Homo sapiens: one gene and its partners. The protein of the gene in region 2 interacts with the protein of the main gene of each other region in a pairwise test. Each region holds a gene or a part of one and is shown on either strand. Other genes may lie near its edges.

Region 1 (3,905 bases), on a different chromosome or scaffold from region 2:
GGAGGCACACCGCTTTGAGTGGGCCTCCACACTGAGTCATGGTGTCTGTCTGTTTTTTCCTCCAGGTCAGTGACCTATCTTTTCATGACTCGCTGGCTACTTTTGTTGCCATCCTCATCGCTCGGCAGTGTTTGCTCCTGGAAGATCTGATTCGCTGTGCTGCCATCCCTTCACTCCTTAATGCTGGTGAACTACCAATCTGTAACCCCTAGCATTTCTAGACCTCAAATTTCAATACACACTGGACGGCCATCCTCTCATTGTTCACTGTGGGAGACCTTGCTGCGGCTCCCTGGCCTTCCTCAGAAGGCCAGTCCTTTGGTATGCTGAAGGCTAGAAGAAACCTGTTTTTTAGCCCTGGATTTGCAGCCCTGACCTTTCCAATTTCTGACCCTTCAACTGCGTAACAGTTCTCTGCTCTACCTCGCTTTCAATATTATCTTGCTTTTTCTCCTTTCACTTTACCTCATCTTCTCTCCCATGCCCCTGCCATACACTTGCATGCATGCAGGCACGCACACACATAAACCCACATACAGTTTAACTTCATCCCTTCCAGATCTGTTTTGTCTTCCTTTTAGCTTGTAGTGAACAGGACTCTGAGCCAGGGGCCCGGCTTACCTGCCGCATCCTCCTTCACCTTTTCAAGACACCGCAGCTCAATCCTTGCCAGTCTGATGGAAGTAAGTGACCCTGATCTGAACCAGCCAACAGTAGAAAGTGTGGTTCCCCTGCCTCCGTGGATTCTACTTTTGCTTCCCCTGACTTCATCGCCTTCCCCAGACAAGCCTACAGTAGGAATCCGCTCCTCCTGCGACCGCCACCTGCTGGCTGCCTCCCAGAACCGCATCGTGGATGGAGCCGTGTTTGCTGTTCTCAAGGCTGTGTTTGTACTTGGTACGGGGGTAGGAAGGGAGTGGTGCCAGAAGTGTGTATAGGGTGGAGTGCCAGCTAAACTACAAGGGACAGTCTTTCTCCCTTCTGAAGGTGGTCTCTCTGACCTTTGGGGAGGAGGGGAGGGAGAGAAGTATATTTCTGTCCCATAGGGCAGGATTTGGGGTGTTTCTACCTCTGTGGGCCCAGGGTGGGTCTCCACACGTGTTCCAATCTCACTCTGCCCTCCCTATCTCCCACCCGTGAACCACAGGGGATGCGGAACTGAAAGGTTCAGGCTTCACTGTGACAGGAGGAACAGAAGAACTTCCAGAGGAGGAGGGAGGAGGTGGCAGTGGTGGTCGGAGGCAGGGTGGCCGCAACATCTCTGTGGAGACAGCCAGTCTGGATGTCTATGCCAAGTACGTGCTGCGCAGCATCTGCCAACAGGTCAGTTTCACCTTCCTCCCACACCTCCTAAATGCCTCTGTGTAATATAGTTCTGTTTCCAGCCCATGATCACACCAGCTCCCTACTATACATTGTGTTCCTTAACAACTCCAGCCCATCCCCCATATTCCTAACCCCCTCACTGGTTGTTCCCAGTCCCTGATTGTCAGCTTCCTCAGGAATGGGTAGGAGAACGTTGCCTTAAGTCTCTGTGTGAGGACAGCAATGACCTGCAAGACCCAGTGTTGAGTAGTGCCCAGGCGCAGCGCCTCATGCAGCTCATTTGCTATCCACATCGACTGCTGGACAATGAGGATGGGGAAAACCCCCAGCGGCAGCGCATAAAGCGCATTCTCCAGGTAGGCCAAGGCCGTGGGGGCTGTGGAGGAAGCAGTGGGCCCAATCTGGGGAGAAACAATAGGAACCTTGAGAAAAGGAGAGGGGCAGTTAAGTAGAGAGGAAGACAAACAAGGATATAGGGGAGGGGAGAGGTAGCGAGAGAAACAGCTCCAGCATGGGCTGAGGAGTAAGTCCAGTAGGGTCTAGACTCCAGTGTAAGAGTATTAGGTGAGGGCATAGCTATCTGGAGTGAATCTAGCTTATCAATGGGAAGCATAGCATCTGGGAGGCCTAGGTGTGGGCCGTGTATATTTGGCATTTTGGCCATGGCTCAGGAACTGAATAGTAATAGCTACTACTTGCTGAGCATGTGCTTTGTGCCAGGTACTGTGCTAGGCACTCTGCACACATTTCCTCATTTAATCTTTATGACCCTATGAAGTAGGTGAGCCTCCCTGTTTGACCGATGAGGAAACTGAGGCTTGAAGAGGTTAAGTAACTTGTCTAACGTCACATAGCCCATAAGTTTAGAGTCAATATGTGAACCCAGACATGTCTGTGCACTTTCCTCTTCACATTGCTTCACACCTTCAGATGACCAGAGAGTGGAAAAATAAAGCCGTTGAGGAAAAGCTAAAGGAATAAGGTCTCTTCAGCCCAGAAGAGATAGTGTTGAAGAGAGATTAGCTAACAGTAGCCTTCTGGTCTCTACAGGACTTTGAGAGATTGTCTTATAAAGGTTCTGTCAGGGACTTTGAGCAGCTGGTCTAAAACAAGAGAAGCAGGCTTCAACTTTAACATCAAGGGTTTCAAGGTTAAGCATTAAGCAGAACTTCCTGATACGAAGGGATGGGAAAGATGTGAAATCTTTCCTGAACTATTTTAAAAATTGGAAAGATTTTCAACTAGTTTGGACTATTTAAATGTAGTCTTTTTTTTTTTTTTTTTTTTGAGACGGAGTCTCGCTCTTGTCGCTCAGGCTGGAGTACAGTGGTGCGATCTCGGCTCACTGCAACCTCTGCCTCCCAAGTTCAAACAATTCTCCTGCCTCAGCCTCCTGAGTAACTGGGATTACAGGTCGCCCATCACCACGCCCAGCTAATTTTTGTATTTTTAGTAGAGATGGGGTTTTGCCATGTTGGCCAGGCTGGTCTTGAACTCCTGACCTCAGGTGATCCGCCTGTCTCAGCCTCCCTAAATGTAGTCTTTCTTAAAGATGGGGACATAGAGGTCCCTTTCAGACCTCCAGGAGTCTGTGATTCAATGTTGCAGGAGATCAGGAATTGGCCTCAGATTGTTGGGTAGCTGGGGGTAACACGATGATGACTAGCCTGGGTGTGGGGCCTCTATCACAGAACTTGGACCAGTGGACCATGCGCCAGTCTTCCTTGGAGCTGCAGCTCATGATCAAGCAGACCCCTAACAATGTGAGTAGTGCCTGGACCCTCCCTTTCCTGTGCTCACGTTCAGCTCCATGTGTCAGGGAGGCGGTCCACCACAGAAGAACCTAGATCCTACCCTTGGGCTCTTGAGCTGAGAGATAAGAGGGGATGGGAAAATGGTGAACAAGTGGAGCTGATGATAAGGGAAATGGGTTGAGAGTGTTGGAGCTCTGAGCTGTGGGGAAGCTTGGTGGTGGTGGTGGAGCCTGTTTCTCTGGCCATAGATGTAAGGAGGTATGTAAAGGAGAAGACAGTGAGGAATTGGAGAAATATGGAGGTACTAGAGGGCATGATTCCCAACAGAGTTGCGTTCCTATCTCCCCATCAATCTCCGCCAGTGTTGTCCTTCTCCGTCATCTCCGATCTCTCCTACCATCTGCTTTCCTTCACCCTTAGCTACCTATTTTAGCACTTCTGTGCCTTTCATCCTCCCCAGGAGATGAACTCCCTCTTGGAGAACATCGCCAAGGCCACAATCGAGGTTTTCCAACAGTCAGCAGAGACAGGGTCATCTTCTGGAAGTACTGCAAGCAACATGCCCAGCAGCAGCAAGACCAAGCCTGTGCTCAGGTCGGATAGAAACATGTTAGGACCCATCCCCTTAGGAGTTTATCTGCTGGTAGCGTGAGTGATATCAGATGCGTGGAGATGCCAGCATGTCCATCAGGGAAAGGAGAGGATAGATTGTTCCAGCCTTGCCTGGCTCCCCTGTGACCCTGTGTCCTCTGTCTGTTCTCCAGCTCTCTAGAGCGCTCTGGTGTATGGCTGGTGGCCCCCCTCATTGCTAAACTGCCCACCTCA
Region 2 (3,905 bases):
GTTTCTTTATTGAATGATAAGATTTTTGTAGAAAGTGGACCTTATGACAACCATTGACAAAAGCAAATGGCTACTCAACCACCCCAACCCCTCACCACCCCTCACCACGGTACAATGGATTTTATTACAAATTGCATACACCAGATAATTCTAATCTGATGTGAAGGAATTATTTTGCCTTTCTTCAGATTCATTCTCATGACATCAAGTTCATTTGAAATTGCATAACATCTTCAGGAATTCATTGGCAGGCTGCCTGGCAGTTGGATAATCATTTAATATATCTTTCTCTCTCCTCAGTTAATAACGACATGATAGTCACTGACAACAACGGTGCAGTCAAGTTTCCACAACTGTGTAAATTTTGTGATGTGAGATTTTCCACCTGTGACAACCAGAAATCCTGCATGAGCAACTGCAGCATCACCTCCATCTGTGAGAAGCCACAGGAAGTCTGTGTGGCTGTATGGTAAGCAAGCCTTTTAAGAAGTTATTCTTTCTTTTCCCCTTTTTACATAATGTATTCTCATAGTACACACAGTCAGTGTATCTCTGTCTCCTAAATGTAAACACCTGTTCCATTTCCCTTTCCTTTAGACCATCTCTCTTTCGATTATTAAATGTAGTTTCTAGGGGTGTTCTCTGCATGTATGTGTACGTTTATGTGGGTATATAAACGTATCATGATTATAAAATGATCATGATAAATGTAAAGATCATAAAATGATCTTTAATATAATAAATCTGGAAACTCTTTCTTGTATCAAGAAGAGGGATTTGCCGCTTAGTAGTCATTTAACCGACACCTCCTCAGCACCCCATAGTGAGACCAGGAGCTTTGTTCTCTTGAGGCAATCTCAGGTCTGGAAGAAGAGGTGATGAAAGGTTGGCTGTTGGAAGAGAAAACTACCAGCCAAAAATGGGGAATCTACTTGGAGAACCACAAAAACAACCTGTTTTTTTAGTCAGAAATTCTGGTTATATTATTCATATAACCATTGGGATAGATATGACTTCTTTCTCTCAGCTCAGAACTACATATTTCTTTTTTTTTTTTGAGATGGAGTCTTGCTCTGTCATTCAGGCTAGAGTGCCATGGCACAATCTTGGCTCACCGCAACCTCCACCTCCCAGGTTCAAGCGTTTCTCTTGTCTCAGCCTTTCGAGTAGCTGGGATTACAGGTGCCCACTACCACACCTGGCTAAGTTTTGTATTTTTAGTAGAGACGGGGTTTCACCATGTTGGCCAGGCTGGTCTCGAACTCCCGACCTCAGGTGATCCACTCGCCTCTGCCTCCCAAAGTGCTGGAATTACAGGCATGAGCCACCATGCCCGACCAGAACTATATATTTTTATCGGATCACATTTTCTCCTCTCTCTCTCTCTCTCTCTCTCATTCCCTCCAACTCATACATACATCTCAAATAATAATTATACATACACAGTGGATACTCATGAATCATTTGATTAATTCATGGTTATAGATTGTGAGCATGAACAAGAAATAACCTTGATCTTTAGAAGAGTTGTAATTTTACAAAAGTACATAAATTCATTAATGAGATATGACATTTTGCAGACTTATTCTGATGTTTTTAATTTATTGGCCATTTTAAAAAAAGTAACTTATGTGTCTCCTGGCTAGTTGACAAACAAGAATATAAACCCAAATATCTCTCCCCCTTTTTTGGGAATGAGTCATTTGAGACCCCTAGACCATGTAAAGCTAGCCTTGATGATAGATCTGGAAACCTTGCAAACTTCTGTACATACCACGGGATGAACTGGTTTCTTAAGAACTGAAGGAATGTTAACAGCAAAGACTTGTCATGACATACTTGCCAATATGATATGATACCTGTCCATGTCCACTTCTAGGTAACGCTTTCAAAGAAAGGATTTGGACAAAGAATGTGTTCAGAGGAGAGGGACCAGTGTGGTTAGAGGCCTAGAAATCATGCTGTCTGAGGAATGGCCTGGGCAATTAGACATGGTTAGTACAGTGAAGAGAGATCGTGGGTTCTGCTGATGAAATTGAAAGGCTCTCAGGTAGAAAATATAATAAACATATTCTGCATAACTCTGAAGGGTAGAGGGAGGATCCATAACATTTGCAAGGCAGGCAGACTTGTGCTCAGCATAAGTTTAGACATTTTCACAATCATGGTTTCCCAACAGCAGAACAGGCTTCCTTTTCTGTAAGCACCAAGTGAAGTTCAGGAGAGGCTGGATGACCATATGTCAAATAGAATGCAGGAAAGATTGAGACACCAGACTAGATGGCCTCAAAGCTTCCTTCCGTGGTTTCTTAAATATCTACGGTGGTGTGAGCACTTGCTTTTGCAACCCAAAAAGGCTCTTTTAATTAAGATTTTTGTTTTCCTGACCAGTAATACAAGCCCAAATCATTAAATGTGAATCAAGTCTCTCTAGAATAGAGGCTTTGCTAGCCTCAAAAAAATGTGAGCATGTCGAAGAGAGGAGGCCTCCCTGTCTTTTCTGTGTCCCAGCTATAAAGGGTAAATACAATGAACATTATTTTGACCTGTGCTGGCCAAAGAAAATTCTCCCGTGAAGCCAGGGGTGTTGATAATGAGAAGGGGAAGTATAGGGTACGCTATAGTGCCCTCCTTGATCCTCCTTCATGACCAAGGCACTCATTCCCTGGGAGTGTTGGCTGTTGAAGGATCACTGCTGAGCCTTCCCTCCAGTGATGGGAGCTGCCTCATTCACGTTGGACACTTTTCATGGGTAGCCATCATCCCATGGCTAGTTGATGCAGAGAAACAAATTCCTGGTTATTTTGCCATAATGTGGTACATCTTTGAAGGACATCCCATTTTCAGAGTTTCCAAGGCATTCACTGAGGCCTTTGCTGCAACCTGCATTATAGTTTAGCTTTTTCCTTCTGTGCAATACTGTTGCCTTTAGTCGCTTACAGATGCATCTCCAAAAACCTCCTGCACAGAACTCTCACAGCCTCAAGGTCTGTTTCCAGGAAACCTAAACTAAGACAGGAGGCTATTGTAAAAATAGCCAGTGTGGAAACTGAAAGGCTCTACTATGATTGTAGATTTCAGTGTTGTTGTTTTTTTAATCAGTTTTAGTGTTTTTTCATTCATTCATTCATTCATTCATTCATTTAACTAATGTCAGTTGTGTGCCCATTCCATATAAAATGCTTAAGCTGCCTCCAAGGATAGAAATATTTTATAACCAAAATTATTATTATTATTATTTTTAAATTGAGAGGGAGTCTCCCACTGTTGCCCAGGCTGGAGTGCAATGGCGTGATCTGGGCTCACTGCAACCTCTGCCTCCCGGGTTCGTGCGATTCTCCTGCTTCAGCTTCCTGAGTAGCTGTGATTACAGGTGCACACCACCATCACGTGGCTAATTTTTTGTATTTTTAGTAGAGATGGGGTTTCACTGTGTTGGCCAGGCTGGTCTCGAACTCCTGACCTTGTGATCCGCCTGCCTCGGCCTCTGAAAGTGCTTAGATTACAGGCATGAGCCACCGTGCCCAGCCTCCAAAATTAATTTTATCATGTTGGTTCTTCTTTCAGTGGAAATTGACAACCTCTTCAGTGGCTCAGAGCAAATGTTGCAGGACAAAAAAAGAAGTCCGTATTTACTTCTTTGTATTTACCTTTCCTATGCTCAGCTATATCCAAAAAGAGTTTGAAAAGTTAGCTGTGCCTGGCTGTTACAGGAGTGAGTGGAGAAAGCAGTTAAGGGCTTTACCAGGTCTCAAGTATTACAGTTGTTTTCTCTCTGTGATGTTAGTTCTCTCAGTAGCTAAGAGGTAGAAAACCGGAGGCTCTGGAAGAGCTGCCCAATAATTATAGAGCAGCTTTCTTTCATGGCTCACAGTTCCTTCTTAGGCCTCTATAAGCGTCACAAG
Region 3 (3,905 bases), on a different chromosome or scaffold from region 2:
GAGGGGTAGGCAGGGGTCTAGTAGTCCGAATGGGGGACTGGGAGTCAGGAAGAGCATCTTAAAGCTCCCGCTAAAGAATTTTCCTTGGTTCTCTGAGTGACTGGTGTGCCTTTGGGAGGGGTCCTTGTGTCCCAAGTCACAGTGCGCCCCTGCCCCCAGTCCCTTGCCACCCCCACCTTGCATGTTGTAATCAAAGGTGAGCTCCTCGCCTGCCCGGATGGTTCTTGTGGCAAAGAAAGCGATGCGGGGCAGCCGCTCGTCAAGGTTGTCTATGAAGACGTTGTACACCTGCAGGTTGGGGTCACACTGGGCGAGAAAGAACAGTTGGGAGAGTGAGGAGGGGCTCCAGCCTGCCCCTCTCGACCCCTTGCCCGCCTGCCGGGGGTACCCACACTGTGGTTGACAAAGTGGGAGATGTTGCCATAGTAGGCGGCATCCACGGTGTACACGTCCTCCACGTAGTCCAGGTCAAAGAGGTAGGTGGCGCCCTGACGGTCGTAGATCTGGCCCCGCCGCTCTGCCTCCTCTGAGGTAATGATCTAGGGAAAGGGCCATGGGTAAGGGGAGATTGGCCGCGAAGTCTCAGGAAAGCCGGCACTGCTCCTGACTTCTGAAGGACAGGGAGCAGGAGGCACCCCTGCCCGTGGACACACATGGGCAGTGACGCAGAGAGTCTGTCGGCCCTTCCTGAGGAGCTGGGCCTCAGCTGGCAACTGCCTGGCCCGCCTCAGGCCTCTGGCTAGCAGGAGGAGTCCCTGGCGGTGAGTGCAGGCTGGCCTGGCTGCAGGGCCCAACTGGGGCCACGCGAGCACCTCCTGCCGCCACCCAGCAAGAGCTGCCCAAGAACCCCTGGAGCCTCCAGTGCCTTGGGACGGAGCAGGAAGGTGATCAGGAGAGACCAAAGCAAGGGCAAGAAAGAAAGTGACCCAGGGTGCCACAGGGAGAGATACTTACTGATCCAGGCAAGGGAGCCTGAGCCCATGCAGGACCCAGCAGGGAGGGCGTGGAGAGAGGGGAAGAAGAGACCCAGGCCATGGGGAAAGGGGGCAAGGGCCTCAAGACAAGAGAGGTGGAGGCAGAGGCAGAGGGAGGCCCAGGTTCAGAGAGCCAGAAAGAGGCTGAGGCCACACACTTCAGAGACAGCAGCAGAGGAGGAGGAAAGATGAAGGGAGAGCACAGTGAGAGAAGCTCTCCCTCGGCCCAGGGCTGCGCAGTGCCAACTGGTGCTTCAGACGGCAGTGGGTGCCTCCTCCCCAGCTGGTTCCCTACCTGTCCTAGGAAATGGGAAGCTTTGCTGCCATCCTAGCCCCAGCCTGTCCTTGCCTCCCAATCCACGCCAACAAATCTCCGGCCCCATGGCCCCTCTTCCCTGAGGCCAGCAACGGCAGCCTCCTGCCAATCCCCAAGCGTAGCTGACCAGGCCCTTCCCTGGGTAGGGGTCCCACTGTACCTCAGCCAAGAACAGTGCACAGCACACAGGAGACACATGGGGACTGCTGTTTACTTTGATTCTGCTTCCTGGCTTAGCAGCCTGTCCTCTGTCCAAGTGGCGGCCCTCCAGGTAGCTCCAGTACTCCCCCGCCACACTTCTTCCTTCCCCTCCCTTCTCCAGAGACCCCTCTCGGGCTTCCTTCCTTGCTCACCCTCATGTGGGCCGGTGACCATGCCCTTCTGACTTGGGAATCCATCTCCTTAGCTAGGATGGCCACACTGGTGTTCTCCCTGGCTGTCCCCTCAAGGCTGTGTTCCATGCCAAAGGCTGACTAACAATGCCTTGAGGAAACCAAGATTTACCCTGCCTCGGGCCACACTACCCACTGCCCCGTGCTCCAGTTCTGTTCCTTGAGGAACCTGGCTCCCTTGCCAGGGTTTTTATTGAGGCCTTCCTTGTGCCCAGTCCCAGCATGCAGGGCTCACGGTCTGATCAGGGAGACACAGGGACCAGGCCCGGTCCACTCTCAGGGGTCACAGGTGGGTAGGGGATACACAGGAACCAGGATTGGTCCCTGCCCTCAAGGGGTCAAAGTCTGGTCACAGAGAGACAGATTCACACACCCACAGTGTAAGACTGTGATCAGGAAACAGTGCTTAGGGCTTGAGGGGGAATGGAGAAGAGACGGATTCTCTAAAACGAGTTGCAGATCATAAAAGGGCTTTACCACCTGGTGGAAGAGTGGGGACTCTCTCCTAAGGGCCACAACATGAGGGTGGAATATGTCAAGATCAGTCTCCCTTCACCTCCTGGAGAACAGTCTTCCTTGTGGCATCAGCTCAAACAGATGGGACCTCTCTAGGCAGCCTTCCAAGCTTCCCGTTCCTCCCCTACCTCAGAAGCTGGCCACTTGTCTGATCAAGTCCTGGGATCAAAGGGCAGCCTCTCCCAGGCTCACAGGCCTAGTGGGTGGGGTATGAGCCATCTTTTTCACCGTAGGCCCTCCTTGAGCCAGGAGGAGTGCCCACATCCTTCCTAGTCTCCATCTTCATGCCTATTCTGCCACTACCTGCTCTCCCAGTCTCACCAGGAGTGAGTCATACTGCAGGCCCTCCAGGGCACAAACACTTCTTGGTTCCTTCTCATCTTCTTTTCAGTCCCATTCTCTAATGATTGGTCAACCCTGAAAGCTTGGGAACAGATGGGCCTGTCTCTGCTCCCTAACAGCTCTCCAGAATGAATGGAAAAGACAGGCTGTAAGCTGGCAGTTCCGAGAGGGTGCTGACGTGAATGGGAACTAGAAGACTTGGAGTCAGCTGCTGCTCTGCCCCCTCCTGGATATGGGATCCTGAATGTTCTCTCTGTGCCTGTTTCCTCAGCTAAAAAAAAAAAAAAAAAGCTACAGCCTGGCAGGGTACCAGTTTTAGATATTATTTGGGCCTTTATTTTTTTATCCATTGTACTACTTTTGTGATTTTAATCAAGTTATTCTACCTCTCTGGGCCTCAGTTTTCTCATCTGCAGAATGGGAATGACAGTGACAAAATCCCAACCTGACAGGGGCTGTTGTAAAGATCCATACAAGATCATGGACGTGAAAGGTGTTCCTGTTTCTGATAGGAGAGTGAGCAATGTTAGGAGTGGTTATGAGGACCAGTTATAAATGTAAGGCACACCCTTAATTTTATGTGCCCTTTACCAAGAAAGGAAAAACTGCTGTTAATTATAAATGATACACCATGATTTAATTAAGACATCTTCATTTCCGAGATGTTAAAATAGGAAGAAAATGCATGTTTTAGAATGGATAAAATAGGCTGGCATTGTCTCTTGGGTGAGGATGGGAATGTTCTGCAGGAACGTGAAAGTTCTGACCCAATGTGGGAGGCTGCAAAGGAGGGAAGGGCAGCTCCCGTGGAGGGAGCTCTTGGTACAGACTGTCAGTACATGTCCCAGCTGAAGAAGGACAGTAGATAGCATGGTGTGCAGATAGGCCCTTGATTCCGTAACACCCTGGCAGCATCTGGGACGGCACTACAGAATCAAGTAAATTAGAACTGCTGCAACGAAATGTATGACTATTACCCCAAGTAGGATAAATAAAAACTACAAATAGGACCCTATCCGGTCAGGCTGGGTCCTGTAGCCAGATGGGTTACAAAAAAACTTGGTCTTCCAGACATTTTGGATTTGCTGAAGTTTGAACTATGCTGATAACATTTGTATCAAACTTACTGTGTACTGAACACTGTTCAAGTGCTTTTTCCAAGTGCTTGATACATAGTAACTCATTTAATTTTTGTAACAAGCCTGTGAGGTGAGTGCTATTATTGTTCCCATTTTACATAGTAAATGCAGGCACAGAGGTTAGTGATTGCTGATGAGTAGTGGAGCTGGGATTCAGCCTCGGGCAGTCAGGATCCAGAGTCCACCCTCCTAACCATTTGCTATACTGTCTCTTCAGAGGGGAATG
Region 4 (3,905 bases), about 99 Mb from region 2:
AAATCCCTTCTTTACAAAAAATACAAAGATTAGCCTAGCCAGGCATGGTGGCGCCTGCCTGTAGTCCCAGCTACTGGGGAGGCTGAGGCAGGAGAATCACTTGAATGCAGGAGTCTTACACTGCAGGGAGCCATGATCATGCCACTGCACTCCAGCCTGGGTGACACAGTGAGAACCTGTCAAAAAAAAAAAAAAAAGTAGGGTGCAGTGACTCACGCCTGTAATCCCAGCACTTTGAGAGGCTGAGGGGGGTGGATCACTTGAGGACAGGAGTTTGAGGCCAGCCTGGCTAACATGGTGAAACCCCATCTCTACTAAAAATACAAAAATTAGCTGGGCATGGTGGCAGGCACCTGTAATCCCAGCTACTTGAGGCTGAGGCAGAAGAATCACTTGAGCCCTGGAGACGGAGGTTGCAGTGCACCGAGAGCGCGCTGCTGCACTCCAGGTCAACAGACTTCAAACTTCAGAATTTCCTATTTCTTATCTGTACCTGCTGACGCTCTTGAGAGTCTGTACACTTGAATTCCAATACCTCCCCATAGCTGAGGCAGGGTGATGGATCTGGCTGCTTGTTTTTCAGTTTCTTCTGTATTATGATGACTGGGCCCGGCCCTTTTTTTTTTTTTTTTTTTTTTGAGATGGACGCTCTGTCGCTCAGGCTGGAGTGCAGTGGCGTGATCTTGGCTCACTGTAACCTCCAACTCCCTGGTTCAAGCAATTCCCCTGCCTCAGCCTCCTGAGTAGCTGGAATTACAGGCACATATCACCACACCCAGCTAATTTTTTTGTATTTTTAGTAGAGATGGGGTTTCACCATGTTGGCCAGACTGGTCTCAAACTCCAGGCCTCAGGCAATCTGCCTGCCTTGACCTCCCAAAGTGGGAATTACAGAGATGAACCGCCGTGCCCAGCCTGATGACTGGGTCCTTTATTACTCCAGCTCTAATATTGAATAGGGACTGGAGTATGATGTGGAGAACAGCTGTAAGCTGAAACCGGTAAATTATTTCATTTCTTAGAGACTCACCCAAATTAGAGATAATATATACCATTCTTTGGATTTTTTTTTTAATTTTATATACGCACATGTATATGAATACACCCATATTTATGTATGTTTGTTTTAAACACTGATAGACATTGTTTCTTAAGGTACTATAAATATGCCATGAAATAGCTATAACCTAGTTTGGCTGTCTCTCTATTGCAGGACAGTTAAGTTCTTTCCAATATTAAATACAATGCAATCAATGTTTTTCCTAAGGAGAGATTGTAGAATGAGGTTTAAGGCTTGATGAGGATCATCTGGAATGAAAACTTCAAATGTTTTTAGGCCATTAGATGATTTAGGCTTAAGGCCTGAATCAGTTCTGAATGTTGTTTGAAACTTGTAAATAGTATAATGGAAATGTGTTATTTTTTTCTCCTTAGGAACGAAGACCCTTTCTGGCCTCAGAATGTACTGAACTGCCTAAAGCTGAGAAGTGGAGACGACAGGTATGTTCTGGGTAAATCTGATTTCAGTAGAAGTAACAAGTCTCTCATTTCTTCTTATTATCTAAATGACTGTTAGACCAAAAGTCTAAGTATTTTTAAATACTAATTTTGAATTATAGTTTTTCTGTGCTTTCTAACATATTCAAAAATTATTAAAATGTATTACTTTTTTTTAATAGATCATTGGAGAGATCTCTAAAAAAGTGGCTCAGATTCAGAATGGTAAGCAAACTTGTTCCTTTAAAGTGCTTGATTCTCAAATCCACAATTAGACTTGAGGACTTCAATACTCCTTTCAAAATAATCAATAGAGCAAGTAGATAGTAAATCAGTAAGGACATAGAAGAGCCAATCAATACGATCAGTCAGTTTGATGTAGTTGAAAGTTGTAGAATACTCTGTCTCACAACACTGTACCTAACAATAAAGAATACGTCATTTTTTTTTTTTTTTTTTGAGACAGAGTCTCACTCTGTCACCCAGGCTGGAGTGCAGTGGTGCGATCTCGGCTCACTGCAAGCTCAGCCTCCTGGGTTCACGCCATTCTCCTGCCTCAGCCTCCCGAATAGCTGGGACTACAGGTGCCCACAACCACGCCCGGCTAATTTTTTTGTACTTTCAGTAGAGACAGGGTTTCACCATGTTAGCCAGGATGGTCTTGATCTCCTGACCTTGCAATTCGCCCGCCTCAGCCTCCCAAAGTGCTGGGATTATAGGTATGAGCCACTATGCCCGGCCTAATACATGGTCTTTTTTAAGAGCACGTGGAACATTCACCAAAATAAAACATATTCTGGGCTGCAGAACAAATGTTAGCAAATTTAAAATATTTGAGGCCGGGCGCAGTAGCTCACGCCTGTAATCCCAGCACTTTGGGAGGCCGAGGAGGGAGGATCACCTAAGGTCTGGGGTTTGAGACCAGCCTGACCAACATGGAGAAACCCCACCTCTACTGAAAATACAAAATTGGCTGGACGTGGTAGCGCATGCTTGTAATCCCAGCTACTTGGGAGGCTGAGGCAGGAGAATCGCTTGAACCTAACGGGCGGAGGTTACAGTGAGCCAAGATCACACTATTGCATTCCAGCTTCAGCAACAAGAGTGAAACTCCATCTCAAAAAAAAAAAAAATTGAAATTACACAGAGTATTTTCTCTGATTATAACAACAGATTCATATCTGAAAAATTCCTAAATATTTGGAAATTAAACAACATATTTGTAAATAATTCATGTGTCTGAGAGGAAACAGCAAAGAAATTAGAAGATATTTTGAATTTAATTAGAGTGAAAACGTAATGTCAAAATTTAGGGGATGAAAAAATTTATGGGATATAGTGCTTAGATAAAAATGTATAGCACTGGCCTGGTGCGGTGGCTCACACCTGTAATCCCAGCACTTTGGGAGGCCGAGGCGGGTGGATCACGAGGTTAGGAGATAAGAGACTATCCTGGCCAACATGGTGAAACCCTGTCTCTACTAAAAATACAAATATTAGCTGGGTGTGGTGTCATGTGCCTGTAATCCCAGCTACTCAGGAGGCTGAAGCAGGAGAATCGCTTGAACCCGGGAGGCGGAGGTTGTAGTGAGCCAAGATCGTGCCACTGCACTCCAGGACTCCATCTCAAAACAAACAAACAAACAAACAAACAAAAAATACATATATAGCACTGAAATAATAGAAAATTATGAAAGTTTTCAAATCAGTGATCTAAGCTTCTACCCTGTGAAATTAGAAAAGAAGAGCAAATTAAACCCAAAGCAAGCAGAAGGAAGGAAATAGTAAAGATAAGAAATCAATAGCATTGAAAACAAGATGAATAGAGAAAACAGACCAACAGCTGGTTCTTTGAAAAGATCAATAAAATTGCTGGGCGTGGTGGCTCACGCCTGTAATCCCAGCACTTTGGGAGGCCGAGGCGGGCGGATGACGAGGTCAGGAGATCGAGACCATCCTGGCTAACACGGTGAAACCCCGTCTTTACTAAAAATACAAAAAATTAGCTGGATGTGGTGGCAGGCGCCTGTAATCCCAGCTACTTGGGAGGCTGAGGCAGGAGAATGGCATGAACCCAAGAGGTGGAGCTTGCAGTGAGCTGAGATCGCGCCACTGCACTCCAGCCTGGGAGACAGAGCGAGACTCTGTCTCAAAAAAAAAAAAAAGATCAATAAAATTGATAAACTTCTAGTCAGACTGACCAAGAAAAAATATACACAAATTAAGAATATTAGGAACCAAATTGGGAATATTACTATAGAATCTATATACATTAAAAGGATAATAAGGAAATATTACAGACAATGTTATGCCCATAAATTTGACAACTTAGATGAAATAGGTCAATTCCTTACAAGACACAAACTGCCAAAGCTCACTTAAGAGAAGTGGTCCTTTTTTTTTTTTTT
Region 5 (3,905 bases), on a different chromosome or scaffold from region 2:
CTGTTGCTGTTACATTTACAGAAATGATGTAAATATTGTGCAAAGTTCTTATTGTCTTCTGTAAAAGAGTAAATCATAAGAAATCAAGCAACCTTTTTTTTCAAACACCAATTATACTTTTCTCTCATAAAATGTAAAACTCCTAAGATCACTATGATTATGTTAAAATAACTTTTTTAGAAAAGTAACTTAAACAGTCTGAAAATTAAAGTTTGCTGTTGAAATTTCAGCTCCTTATTGCATAATATAGAGAACAAAGGTTTGGGATTGAATTCTAGAAACGTTTATTGCTAAATAAGTTACTAATTCAGATAATTTATTCAGTGATTTTTATGCCCATGAAAAGAAAATAATTTATTAGTTTGTTTGTAATCCCAGCTGATAATAAACTTGTCTCCTGAGCCCTTATAGCTTTTGTTATATTTATAACTTCTTGTGTTTATTTCATGCTGTTTGATACCTGTGTTTGTAATCTTCTTCATGTTCCTTTATTTTGTCATTCTAAATAAACTCAAACATTCTTAATGTATATACATTTTTAACTAATATGATGCTTTTAGATTTACAAATCTGAGTGAGTATCTGGATGGTTAGTGTAGCTTTGCTTTTTAATCTTATCATTCCATCTAAGAGAGGTTGATCACAATTCTCATTTATGCAGGGCAATTCCTGTTGAACTGGTATAATTTTAACCTAAGATCCTACTCTGAAAAAACACTTGGTCAACCCAGACAACTTTTTAGGTAGAAGACAACTTTTCTCCAACTACAATATCAGGAATATATCATATTGCTAAATTTCTTATACTCCATCAGGTTTAGGCAGATTATCTTGAACAAGGTATTTTTCAAAGTAATTTTCATAAATTGTTTTTCATAAAAGTATATTTCAAAGTATTTTTTATAAATATCATAATTTTTTTTTATTTATTAAAGTTACTAATTTCCCCTGAAAATGAAAAGAGAATAGAGTTGTGGGCCGGGTGTGGTGGCTCATGCCTGTAATCCCAGCACTTTGGGAGGCTGAGGTAGGCAGATCACTTGAGGCCAGGAGTTCGAGACCAGCCTAAGCAACATGGTGAAATCCCGTCTCTACTAAAAATGCAAAAATTACCTGGGCATGGTGGCACAAGCCTGTAATCCCAGCTACTAGGGAGACTGAGGTATGAGAATCGCTTGAGCCCAGAAGGCAGCTCCAGCCTTCGCAACAGAGTGAAACTCTCTCTCAAAAAATAAAAATTTAAAAAAATGAGAATAGAGTTATACATTTCTATCAGGTAACAGAGCAAGAATGCTCTGTTTTGGGGGGTGGGTGGACAACATATACCCCTGGACAGAGTACATAGCAAAATTTTTAGTAAAAGCAAAGCTGAAATATTTGTTTATTTAAAACCTGTTGATACTTAAAACCTAGAGAAAGACTGATAAGAAAATAAGAAATAAAATGAGGAAAATGAGATTGAGAAAACCCAGTCCCCTCCACCCCCCACACATACATGGGGATTAGAAGAATGGAACTGATTAGCTACTAAATTAAGAAGTGAAATTATTATAAAAATATAGTCCATAACTCTGTAGTATCAAGTGAGAGCTTCGCTAAGGTCATGACAAATGGGAATGAAGAATTAACAGCAAATTGAAAGTTGCATATTATATTTCCCAATGTAAATTTATTTTACTAATTAGTTCTGAAAAATTGACGTTATCCATTAAATTGAATCCTTTAAGCATTAGTAGACAGTTTATCAGTTTTCATCAAACTAAATACAAACCTATGTATAAAACCAAAATTCAATAGCTATCAATGCCTTAGATTCAAATAGCATGAATCAACCCTTTAAAGATTATAAGTCATATTCATCATTTGGAATATAATTAAAATGCTCTAGATTATTGCAGGTTAGCTTTTAGAGAGTCTTAAGAAAATGATTGCATGGATATATTTTAATGTGATAAAACTGACATTTTCTAGATTTATCTCAGCCTACCCTGGACAAAATATGTTCTCACTGTGCATTATTTTAAACCATCACAGATGTCCTTAACATCTACAGATTCTCTCTATGTAAACTACATCCAAATTGCTAAATTTACTTATAGAATTACAAGTTTGTAAGAAATCATAAGCCTAATGAATGGCAATAGATGCTTATGTACATCTATCAGCAATTATTTGTTAAGATATTTGATATTTAAACAACAAACTTTCATATATTGTAGAGATCTACTAAAGCTCTAAAGGCAGTGTATGTAGGGGTGAGGGGAGTTTAGAAGAAAGATTGGAGATTATATGCTTAATTTGGTAGTTTTACCTTTGCTCTGTTATATTATGTATTAAATGTGAAACCAATAATGCATGTTTGGAATGGGAAGAATACCATTTTGATTGGAATAAAAGTAAATGTCAAAATTATCTCTGTTTTCATATTTCACATTACTAAAATTCCTTATACAGGCCCTGCAGAGCTAACAAAGTATTTGAGACTCTCTCCCTACCAACAAATAGTTCATGAAAACACAGAGGGAAAATATGTACTGTAAACCTCTTAATACGATTAGTGCCAAGTGATAAATTTAAAGATTACATAAAGGTTTCGAGGAGGTAGATATTACGCTATGCAGGGCTGCCTTACGGGGTATCAGAGGAATGGAAAAAGTGCTGAGGAAACAGAAGATGTAAAATAAGCAAACAGAAGGCAGAGGAGGCTGAATGATTCGTTTGCAGGCCATACATCTCCTTGGAAATCAACTAAGGTAGGTTTGGAAAAGAATGTATAAGAGCATAATTGTGGAGAAAAGACTTACCTAATTTTAGTAATTTACAGAGTCTATTTCTTTTCTCCATAGTTCTCATACTTAGTTCAACCAAATTCATCACTCCTACATTATATACTTGGAAAAGAAGCTTGTTTACTGGATGTGTGAACTAAAAGATAAAACCAGTTCCAGTTGCCCAAGCCCTGAATCTTCCATCTGTGGTGCTCAGGATTTGAGGAGTTACCTACTTCTTTATCTCAGGGACCACAAAATTTCTCTCTCCCTCTCTTTTCCTCTCTCCACTATCTCCCTTCTCTTAAATACATACACTTATCTCAACATGATCAATATTTCCAAGTCCAGAGGGAGACATGAAAGGCAACAGCAAACGCAATGACGTGTGACTATTCGGTTTCACTAATCACTTGTCCAGAATGCAAACCATACTGACCATAAATGAGCTTGCAAATAATCCTCATTCTTATGTAATCTGTATTTTAGACATATAATTCTAAATACTATCAGCCCCTGCCAGTGGGAGCTGGCCTGAAGTTGAGCTCCTAAACTCTTAGCTGATATCACCCATTATACTGTTTTGTCCCATTACATTTGAGGTGTGGCAACCTCCAGAGAGAGAGAAGAATGTATTTCTCAAAGAATTTCTCAAAGATTTTGTTACTCATTTATATAACTCATTTATAGTCATTTGTATAACTTTTAGTACTTCTCTGTCTCTTGTCTATTTTCTTCCCCAGAAGCTTTTAATCCCTTAATTTTCAGCTTAGTTTCTCAAAGCCAGGTCATTTGTTAGTTCCAAACTGTTTTGATAAGAAGTGTGCAACTTCTTATCCATTAGGAGTTATTTCTACACTCTAATCACAACTTCTGTTGGTTTAGCATTGCCATTTAGGCCCACTCAGCACTCAAAACAGCTCTGCCGCTTTCTGCTATGTGATGAGGAGGACATTTTTTTCATCAGAAAAATTGTGATTCAGACTTTCTCTTGAGAGACATTTGGAAAGGTGTTATTACTGTGCTTCATAAGTCATTTGACAAACTAAGTAAGAAGTAGGGTAGGTATTTTGCTTCTGTGAAGCAGATTCATTTGGGACAATAAAATATGGAGACTGTTAGAAAATTAGATATCAT
Region 6 (4,340 bases), on a different chromosome or scaffold from region 2:
AAATGTCGACCCATCCAGATCTTGAGGGAAGTTTTTGTGAGCTCCGCGAGCGCGCTGAAATTTTACCAGAATATTGCACTGGGCATGTGAATTTTTCTCAAAGGAATCCAAGACCCCTCCCCAAAGTTAAGAACCTTGGGTTTAGTTATTCTGGTGAGAATTAGAAAGGAATGGTGGCAAGGGATAGCTCAATTCCTTCCAGAAGTGTCCCTTCCCAGGGCCATTCAGGCGCCTGCCCATTCTTCAGAACCGGGTGCTCGGGGGCGAGGGTGTGCGTAGGCTGAGCATTTCCCGAAGGACAGGAGGGCGAGGAGAGGCGAATTTGAGAGGTGGATTTCTTAGGCACTGGGGTTGCTACCTAAGGGGAGGGGCAGAGTGACAGCTGCTGGGACCTGGGACCAGAGTAGGGGGGAAGCAGAGACCGGTGGTGGGCAGAGGCTGGGAGAGGGGAGGAGAGGAGGTGGTCACCCAGAAAGGTCAGAGAGGGATACCCCGGAAGGGAGAGGGAAAAAAGGACGGGGAAGGGTGGTGGTGGAGAGAAGCGGCGCGGGGTGCGGGGGGTGAGGCAGGGCAGGGGACGGGGGTCGGGGGTCGGGGGAATGGCGAAGGAGGGCAGCCAAGACAAATTTCACACGGCCTAGGCCTAGAGGCGAACTGGAAACATACTTGGCGCTCAATCTTGTTTCCTTCTTTCCTCCCAGTTCCGGGGCAGGGCTGTCCGTTCAGAGAGGGTCAAGGGCCATCGAGGCAACCTAAGGGTTGCTGCCTAAGGGTGGCTCTGTCTCACCCCCAGGACCTGCCCCCTTATCCATTCCCCCTGGGTCTTAGTCCTGCGTCCTCTGCTAGACCGAGCTAGCTCCAGGGCAGTTTTCCACCCGGCGGGGCGGGTCTTAGAACCTGGGAATCACCCCACCCGGGCCCCTCTCCCTGGGAGTGGAGGGGACCAGGGAGGAGCGAGGGAGCGGGCGGCGCACGCCCTAGTTATCTTTCCTCCCCCACTCCCGCCCACCCCCTCCTCGCGGCCCTGGCTGGGCTCCGGTCCAGCCGAGCCCTCAAGGGTTAAAGGCGGCCGCAGGTGAGGTGGGCGGGGCCGCGAGTCCGGGGGAAAAAGCAGCGCTGGGGAGAGGATGAAGGCAGAGAGCGCGGGTGAGTCACGGGCGGAGCTGGCCTTGTTCGCTCGCTGGCTCCTGCCCGCCCTCCGTCCTCCGCCCTCTCGCCAGCGCTCACCTCCGCCGCCTGCCGCCTGCCGCCAGCCGCCGGGTCTGGCTCGCCCTGGGCTCCTGCCCCTTACCGCTGGAGAGCTCGCCGGCGCACAGGGCCTATGAGCGACCGTCAGTAGCGCACCAGCCAGCCGTGCCCGGAGCCCGCCGCAGCCTCGAGGTAGGAGCGCGGGTCGGGGTGGCCAGGGGTGAGCGCTACGGAGATTGTCTCGAAAAAACGCACTCCGAACGCGCCCCAGCCTCCTATGGCCTTGGGAGCGGGGTGGTCCTAAAGGATCTGAGAGGTTAGAACCCCGATGGAGGGAAAACTGGGCGGACGGGAGAGACTGGAGGGACCGAGGAGGCTGGAAACCGGGGCAACTGGAGCGACTGGGACAACCAGAGGACCGGGACATTGAGAACTGGGAGTACTAGCCGGTGATCCAGAGAGGCAGAGCCGAATGGGGCATAAGGGTGCACCGACTTGCCTTCCCACTTCGGGGAGCGAGAAGCCTGCGATGTACGCTGTGCTCTCTCCTTTCCTGAACTCTTTCTAGGCCTGGAAGTGAACCGGACACATACTTGGCACTCAATCCTGTTCCCTTCTTTCCTCTCAGCTCTGGGGCAGGTGGGTCAAGGACCATAGAGGCAACCTAAGGGTTGCCACCTAAGGGTGGCTCCATATCACCCCCAAGACCTGCCCCCTCCTCTATTCTCCTGGGTCTTAGTCTTGCATCTTCTGCTAGACTGAGCCAGCTCCAGGGCAGTTTTCCACCCAGTGGGACTGGTCTTAGAACCTGAGAATCACCCCGCTTTGGGTTTCTGAAATCTTGGTAGCAGGCCATTGCATCCCAGGCCTGGGCTCTCCAGCTCTCTGCCAGGAGAAGCCACTCTGGAGCCCAGATTATCCTAGCCTTCCCATCCTCCAGCCCCTGGGGCAGTTCCCAGGCACCAAAAGCTGTTAGGGTCCCTGGCTTCACAGCTCCCGCTCAGCCCCTTCTGTGCTGCCCCACCCCGGCCTGGGGCTCCTTTCCTGCAACTTCACCCTGTTTTCCTCTTGTGGTGAGGCAGCCGGAGCCTGAGTAGGTGCCCCCGTCCTCCTCTCCCTCCCTCTCCCAGGCTATCAGTGCCACCTCCCTGGTCCCAGAGGCAGGAGATGGTAGGGTCAGCTAAGCCCTGCTGTAGGAAGGAAACAATCCTGCCCTAAGTCACTGGTCTCCTCCCCCACCAGTAGAGAAGACCCAGGCACACAAACCTGCCCAGCTGAGGCACCAGGGCTTCCAGGCCTTAGGGAGAGGTGGTGAGAAAAGAGTGAACTTCAAGCCACAGATATGTGGTTGAGAAAGCGTTGGGGGTCTTTAGCGTTCTAAGGGTCTACAGAAAGATTGGTTTACAGAAAGTAACAGACTGAGAGTCCAGGAGTTAGGAGACCTGGTTTATTGAATGAATAAATGAACATCCTTGTCCAAGTCACTGTGCCAAGTCATTCAGTCTGCTTCCTTCTCTTCAAAATAAGAAGATTGGCCTGGAGCAGTGGTTCTCAACATTTGCTGCATATAAGAATCTTCTGGTGGTGGTGGGGAGCTTCTGAAAAATGATCCATGCCTAGGATGCACTTGCTTATGTCATCTTTTTGGGCAATTCTTGCTCTTAGGTTCTGTGGTTATGACTTCTCTTGTTGCCCTCCTCTTCCTGCACTCTGACCTTGTATCACTTAAAGGGGTGCAATTGTATCTTCCAGAGCTTGCTGTCAAGCTCTTCTCTGGGGAAGCCATTCCCTCCCAACTTTCTATCTGGGCCTCCCCTAGCATGGAGAGGAAGATGGGTAGCAGTCAGAGAGTTGCCTGGCACTGGTATGAGTCAAGAGAGGGATGGAAATTTGGTTTTCTCTGGTGGGGGTATCTCCCAGATTCCAGGGGTATCTGGTGGCCAGAAAGCTGCTCCCCAGGGAGGTGAAGTCCCTGCTTGAGGGAAGGGGGTGGGGGCATGTGAGTCGGTTTAGTGGGCCCGATGTGACCAGGCCAGGCGGGGAGCAGCGTAGACGGTGAAATGCTTTTCATTACTGAACATGCTTTGGGAATGGCATGAGAACTCTTTCAAAGACTCAGGACCCGTTTGAGGCTTTATGAGGGGCAGGTCACCTGAAGCTTTGGGTTTCAGAAATAGACCATCCCCTCTCCCATCTGTATCCTGAGTTAAACTGGGGAAGCTGAGATGTGTCTAGATCCTCCATTTGGGCTGACAGCAGGTCTGCAGGGGGAAAATGCCACTGCCCCTTGTGTTGGCCTGGGCAGCTGGGGTGGGGATGGTTCTAGCACTGTGCTGTAGGTGTATCTGACCTACCATCCTGGGAGTGGCCCAACTCTAGGGATGAGCTGGGTCATACGGCAGGGATCACCCAGAGGAAGGTAGACCTCCATCATCCTCTGTGCTTGGATGAGAACCTCACATCTTGGACCCTTCCTCGCACTCCCGAATTCTCTAAACTCATCTCTAGTCCTCGTTCAGAGGTGCATCCTTCTTTTACACCTGGGGCCAGAGAGGAGGACCTGGGTTAGGAGGGAAAGTGAGCTGGTTATTTCCCTTACTTTTCTGCTTCTTCGCCTCCTTTAGGTCCCGTCTGAGGTGCCCCTGACCGTCCCTGCCCTCACCCCACCCCGGATCCCGGCAATGCTAACCGCTGTCTGCGGCTCTCTGGGCAGCCAGCACACGGAAGCGCCGCACGCCTCCCCGCCGCGCCTCGACCTGCAGCCTCTCCAAACTTACCAGGGCCACACGAGCCCTGAGGCCGGGGACTACCCCTCCCCGCTGCAGCCTGGAGAGCTGCAGAGCCTCCCGCTGGGCCCGGAGGTGGACTTCTCGCAGGGCTATGAGCTGCCAGGGGCCTCCTCGCGGGTAACCTGCGAGGACCTGGAAAGCGACAGTCCCTTGGCCCCGGGCCCCTTTTCCAAGCTCCTGCAGCCGGACATGTCACACCATTATGAATCGTGGTTCAGGCCGACTCACCCAGGCGCGGAGGATGGCTCGTGGTGGGACCTTCATCCGGGCACCAGCTGGATGGACCTCCCCCACACTCAGGGCGCGCTGACCTCACCTGGCCACCCGGGGGCGCTTCAGGCGGGCTTGGGGGGCTACGTCGGA
Region 7 (3,905 bases), on a different chromosome or scaffold from region 2:
AATTCGAGCAGGGTCATGGAGCTTCTCTAACCTGTGGAACCCATTTAAAGAATTTGAAGACGATCGCCTACACCCAGCTGGGCTTAGCGCCATCCCAGCAGGTTTAAGGCAGGCCTCTAGACCATCTTCCTAGAGCTCCCTGCCTGTCCCTGTTGCCCGCAACCATATAGTGTGGGCATAGGAGGCTCTAGGCAGGAGCTGGGCTGGAGCCAGGTGGTATCAAATTTCTCCAGTGGCTGAGTCGGGAGATCTCTCTGGGGCCATTGGGAATTAGGCTGCTTTGTCTTCCTGCTGGGTCAAATTTATTTTCCAAAACTAAAATTTTGTTATGCCAATAAATGACTTCTGGTCAACACAATGTTCCAAGGCTCTGTGCCAGTTGACCCCTACTACCCCCTCCTCCCAGCCCCAGGGAGAAGAGAAAAGGGAGTGGACTAAAGTAGAGAGGGAAGAGAGGCTGGGCTGTGTGCACAGAGGGCACCCACTGCAGGCCAGGCTGGGTTAGGAGGAAGAACAGGAACATACCAAACTCCACCCTCTAGCAGAACTCTAGGGAACCCAGCTCGCCCTGCCCAGGCCAGGGACCTAAGAAGGTTCTACAACATAATTGTCACTCTTGCTCTGCTGTACCTGGCCTTTCTCATTTTAACTCACCTCAGCTTCTCACCCTCACCACCCTCTTCCATCTGAACTGTAATTTGCCCAGAAATGAAGAGAGAGTGTGTTTAGCAGAGTTCCCATCTTTGGAATGTCCTTGCTATGGAAACTTCTTGTTGCCAGTTTCTAGTCAATGACCAGGGCAGCTGGGTAGAGCTGTCTTTCTGAGGGCAGAGGCTGGGGGCATATGCTTCCCACCATTTGGCTCCCTGGGGAAGCAAAGCTTCTCTGGACTTTTCAATGCCTGCCTGTGGCTCCTGCCACCATAGACAAGTTCGTGGGCTTCACAGCCACACTTCAGACTATCACTGCAAGGCTGTTTCCTTAACAGGAAAAAAAATCAACCCGCTCCCTTGCATAAACCAGGCTCCCACTCTCATTGAGACAACCACTTGGAGAGTGCTTTTCCCTTTTTTTTCTGGGAGTGCGCCATGGCTGGGTGAAAATTACATCTCTTGGCAGCTGCTCTAACAGCTGGGAGGGAAGCAGTGAGTACAGTGGAGAAAGGGCAGCTCTTGGCAGAAGTCGCCACCCTGGTATCTGACCCAGAAGAGAAGTTTGGAAGAAAGAAATTCTCCGGTGTTAGCACTGACACCATGGGCCAACGATCCAAGTGCCATAGAGTGGAGCAGATTTAGGCAGGGCCCGCCTCAGCTAAACCCTCTGAGTCTCCAGGGGTGATGACAGCCCCAAAAGAGCTCGATGCCAGGCAGTCACTGCCTCCCCTTGCCCCATTCTCGCTCCCCACCTCAGAACCACACAGAGAGAAGGGGTTTCATGGCATCTGGCCCAGAGCAGTGAGGCAGCTTGTCCTGTTGAGAGCTGTAGAGCCGGGCAGGCGGGCCTTATAGACACTGAGTCCATGCAGGGCTCGGGGGTGGGCAAGGACACAGTCCTCTCTTGCTGGAACACACTCCCTGTGTTCACGCCGACATCATTCCAGCCCCTGTCGCGGAGCTGCCAAATTGGATTTCCTTGAATAGTGCCGTCAGTGTTGTCCCAGCTCCAGCTGGGCCCAGTAGCTCCCCTGGCCACTTCCTCTGTCTAGCTTGGTTGTGGGGGTTGAAGGGTTTGGAGTTGGGAGTTGGGATAGAGAATTTAGGAATGGGAGCAAGAATATTAGGAGCAAAAATCGGGAGGCCCCCCCATGGTGGCTCATGCCTGTTAATCCCGACACTTTGGGAGGCCAAGGCAGGAAGATTGCTTGAGGCCAAGAGTTCGAGACCAGCCTGGGCAACATAGTGAGATGCTGTCTCTACAAAAAATAAGAATATTAGTGTGGTGCAGTGGTACACGCCTGTAGTCCCAGCTACATGGGAAGCTGAAGCAGGAGGATCGCTGGAACCCAGGAGTTCGAGGCTGTGGTGAGCTATGATCTTACCACTGCACTCCAGCCTAGGCGACAAGGAAAAATAAGAAAAAAGAAAAGAGTTGGGAAACCCTTATCTGCACTGGATGGGAGCCCTTTCCTATCTCTGCCTCCTTTTGCCAACAACCACACCCTCAAAAGTAACTTTTATTATCTTTGTCTCTGTTCTCCAGATATTCTGTTAGGAGGCCAGGAGGGTTAGGGTTTCCTTTGCCCTGCCCTGCTATTGGGTCCTTCTCTGGTCAAAGATTCAGCTCTAACAAAGGAAGGGTCCACCTGTGAGACCTGTTCTGAGGACCAGCCCTGTACCTTTCCCCCATAACAACTTTGAACTCAGTCTCTAGCTTCTTTTTTAAAAAATATTCTTTTTTTATTTTTTAAAGATGGGTTCTCACTCAGCCACCTAGGCTGGAGTGCAGTGGCACAGTCATAACTCCTGTGCTCAAGCAATCCTCCTGCCTGGGCCTCCCAGGTAGCCGGGACTATAGGTGCACACCACTGTCCCCAGCTTGAACTCAGTCTCTAACCTACTTCCTTTTCCTGTTTCACTTCCAGGTGACCACTGACTGGGACCTTCAGAAGGGCACTGGCTGCACTGAGGGCCACACAGGGACCTCAGCTGCAGCGCCTCTGGCAGCTGGCATGATAGCCTTAATGCTGCAGGTGCGGCCCTGCCTCACGTGGCGTGACGTCCAGCACATCATTGTCTTCACAGCCACCCGGGTGAGATACCAGCAGGTAGACAAGTGGCCTGGCCCAGCCTGCTCCAGAGTTCGGGTATCAGGTGGCCTTAGATTCTCAATGTCCCAAATGTTAGATACTAAGTCTCTTTCAGAGTCCCTTTCAGAGTTGCATATGTAAAGAACAGGTGTGGGGACCCCACAAAGACCACAGGCCTAAACTCATTTTATCTGCAAAGGGGAGCTCTGGCTGTGCCTCCTGGCCCCTTCTCTAGAAGCAAGCCAGTGGGGTGGTGACATCATGGGCTTTGACCTTTTGTCCCAGCTTGCCTTGGGGAATCCATTCCCAGTAGCCATAGTGGGAGAGCGTGGACTGGATCAGCCAGCAGGGCAAGCAGGGAAACCAGAGTCAGATTGTTGAGACTACACTGGCAATGCAAGAGACTAACCAGGACCTCTGTCCTTTCAGTATGAGGATCGCCGTGCAGAGTGGGTCACCAACGAGGCAGGCTTCAGCCATAGCCACCAGCACGGTTTCGGCCTCCTCAACGCCTGGAGGCTCGTGAATGCAGCCAAGGTGAACAGGTGTTGGCAGGGCAGGGTGCCCTGTGTGGAGTGACCAAGGGTCGGAGCTGAATGCCCCAAACTGCCTGGGATATCATAGGTGCCTAGTAAATGTTCATTCAGTTCATTGATTTAACAACTTCAACCTTCATCCCAGCTGATATCCATTTTACAAATGAGAAAGCAGGCTCAATGCTATCACTGAAGTTTCCAAACTACTAATAGAGTAAATGGGACCTGAGTATGTGTGGGACTCAGGATGCTCTGGTTCCCCTCCTCCACCCTGGACACAGCTGTTTCCTCTGGTTCCTTAGCTGGGGGCTGTACGGAGCATTCCAGCGAGCAAGCAGGAGCTGAGGGCTGAAGGAAGATGATGAGGAGTGGAAAAATAAAGACAGCTAAACCTTCAAGATCGTATTGACAAGGGCGTGTGTGTTTGTGAGAATGTGGGTGTGATCATTCTTGTTTGTTGATTTGCCATCCCCTCCTTTCCTTTCATAGATCTGGACATCTGTCCCTTACTTAGCATCCTACGTCAGTCCCGTGTTAAAAGAAAACAAGGCGATTCCGCAGTCCCCCCGTTCCCTGGAGGTCCTGTGGAATGGTAAGTAATCAGCACAAAGGGGGTTAATCTT

Evidence for each region.
Region 1: the proteins of TGFBR2 (region 2) and MED12 interact in binary tests that used the Homo sapiens proteins (3 or more experiments, as listed by UniProt).
Region 3: the proteins of TGFBR2 (region 2) and SUV39H1 interact in binary tests that used the Homo sapiens proteins (3 or more experiments, as listed by UniProt).
Region 4: the proteins of TGFBR2 (region 2) and ISY1-RAB43 interact in binary tests that used the Homo sapiens proteins (3 or more experiments, as listed by UniProt).
Region 5: the proteins of TGFBR2 (region 2) and GPM6A interact in binary tests that used the Homo sapiens proteins (3 or more experiments, as listed by UniProt).
Region 6: the proteins of TGFBR2 (region 2) and SP6 interact in binary tests that used the Homo sapiens proteins (3 or more experiments, as listed by UniProt).
Region 7: the proteins of TGFBR2 (region 2) and PCSK7 interact in binary tests that used the Homo sapiens proteins (3 or more experiments, as listed by UniProt).

What each region holds. Positions count from the first base shown.
Region 1 is NC_000023.11:71,128,533-71,132,437, forward strand, and holds part of MED12 (mediator of RNA polymerase II transcription subunit 12), read left to right. Parts: intron 1-65; coding exon 66-186; intron 187-581; coding exon 582-683; intron 684-783; coding exon 784-897; intron 898-1,147; coding exon 1,148-1,323; intron 1,324-1,502; coding exon 1,503-1,682; intron 1,683-3,017; coding exon 3,018-3,089; intron 3,090-3,540; coding exon 3,541-3,674; intron 3,675-3,844; coding exon 3,845-3,905. UniProt on the Homo sapiens protein: Component of the Mediator complex, a coactivator involved in the regulated transcription of nearly all RNA polymerase II-dependent genes.
Region 2 is NC_000003.12:30,644,447-30,648,351, forward strand, and holds part of TGFBR2 (TGF-beta receptor type-2 isoform B precursor), read left to right. Parts: intron 1-300; coding exon 301-469; intron 470-3,905. UniProt on the Homo sapiens protein: Transmembrane serine/threonine kinase forming with the TGF-beta type I serine/threonine kinase receptor, TGFBR1, the non-promiscuous receptor for the TGF-beta cytokines TGFB1, TGFB2 and TGFB3.
Region 3 is NC_000023.11:48,702,899-48,706,803, reverse strand, and holds part of SUV39H1 (histone-lysine N-methyltransferase SUV39H1), read right to left. Parts: intron 540-3,905; coding exon 393-539; intron 307-392; coding exon 177-306; intron 1-176. UniProt on the Homo sapiens protein: Histone methyltransferase that specifically trimethylates 'Lys-9' of histone H3 using monomethylated H3 'Lys-9' as substrate. Also weakly methylates histone H1 (in vitro).
Region 4 is NC_000003.12:129,154,450-129,158,354, reverse strand, and holds part of ISY1-RAB43 (ISY1-RAB43 protein), read left to right. Parts: intron 1-1,434; coding exon 1,435-1,500; intron 1,501-1,679; coding exon 1,680-1,722; intron 1,723-3,905. Other genes in the region: pre-mRNA-splicing factor ISY1 homolog, read left to right, coding at 1,435-1,500, 1,680-1,722. UniProt on the Homo sapiens protein: Component of the spliceosome C complex required for the selective processing of microRNAs during embryonic stem cell differentiation. Required for the biogenesis of all miRNAs from the pri-miR-17-92 primary transcript except miR-92a.
Region 5 is NC_000004.12:175,697,234-175,701,138, reverse strand, and holds part of GPM6A (neuronal membrane glycoprotein M6-a), read left to right. Parts: intron 1-3,905. UniProt on the Homo sapiens protein: Involved in neuronal differentiation, including differentiation and migration of neuronal stem cells. Plays a role in neuronal plasticity and is involved in neurite and filopodia outgrowth, filopodia motility and probably synapse formation.
Region 6 is NC_000017.11:47,847,959-47,852,298, reverse strand, and holds the start of SP6 (transcription factor Sp6), read left to right. Parts: upstream 1-1,135; 5' UTR 1,136-1,380; intron 1,381-3,812; 5' UTR 3,813-3,869; coding exon 3,870-4,340. UniProt on the Homo sapiens protein: Promotes cell proliferation. Plays a role in tooth germ growth. Plays a role in the control of enamel mineralization. Binds the AMBN promoter.
Region 7 is NC_000011.10:117,218,435-117,222,339, reverse strand, and holds part of PCSK7 (proprotein convertase subtilisin/kexin type 7 preproprotein), read left to right. Parts: intron 1-2,581; coding exon 2,582-2,749; intron 2,750-3,175; coding exon 3,176-3,283; intron 3,284-3,771; coding exon 3,772-3,874; intron 3,875-3,905. UniProt on the Homo sapiens protein: Serine endoprotease that processes various proproteins by cleavage at paired basic amino acids, recognizing the RXXX[KR]R consensus motif. Likely functions in the constitutive secretory pathway.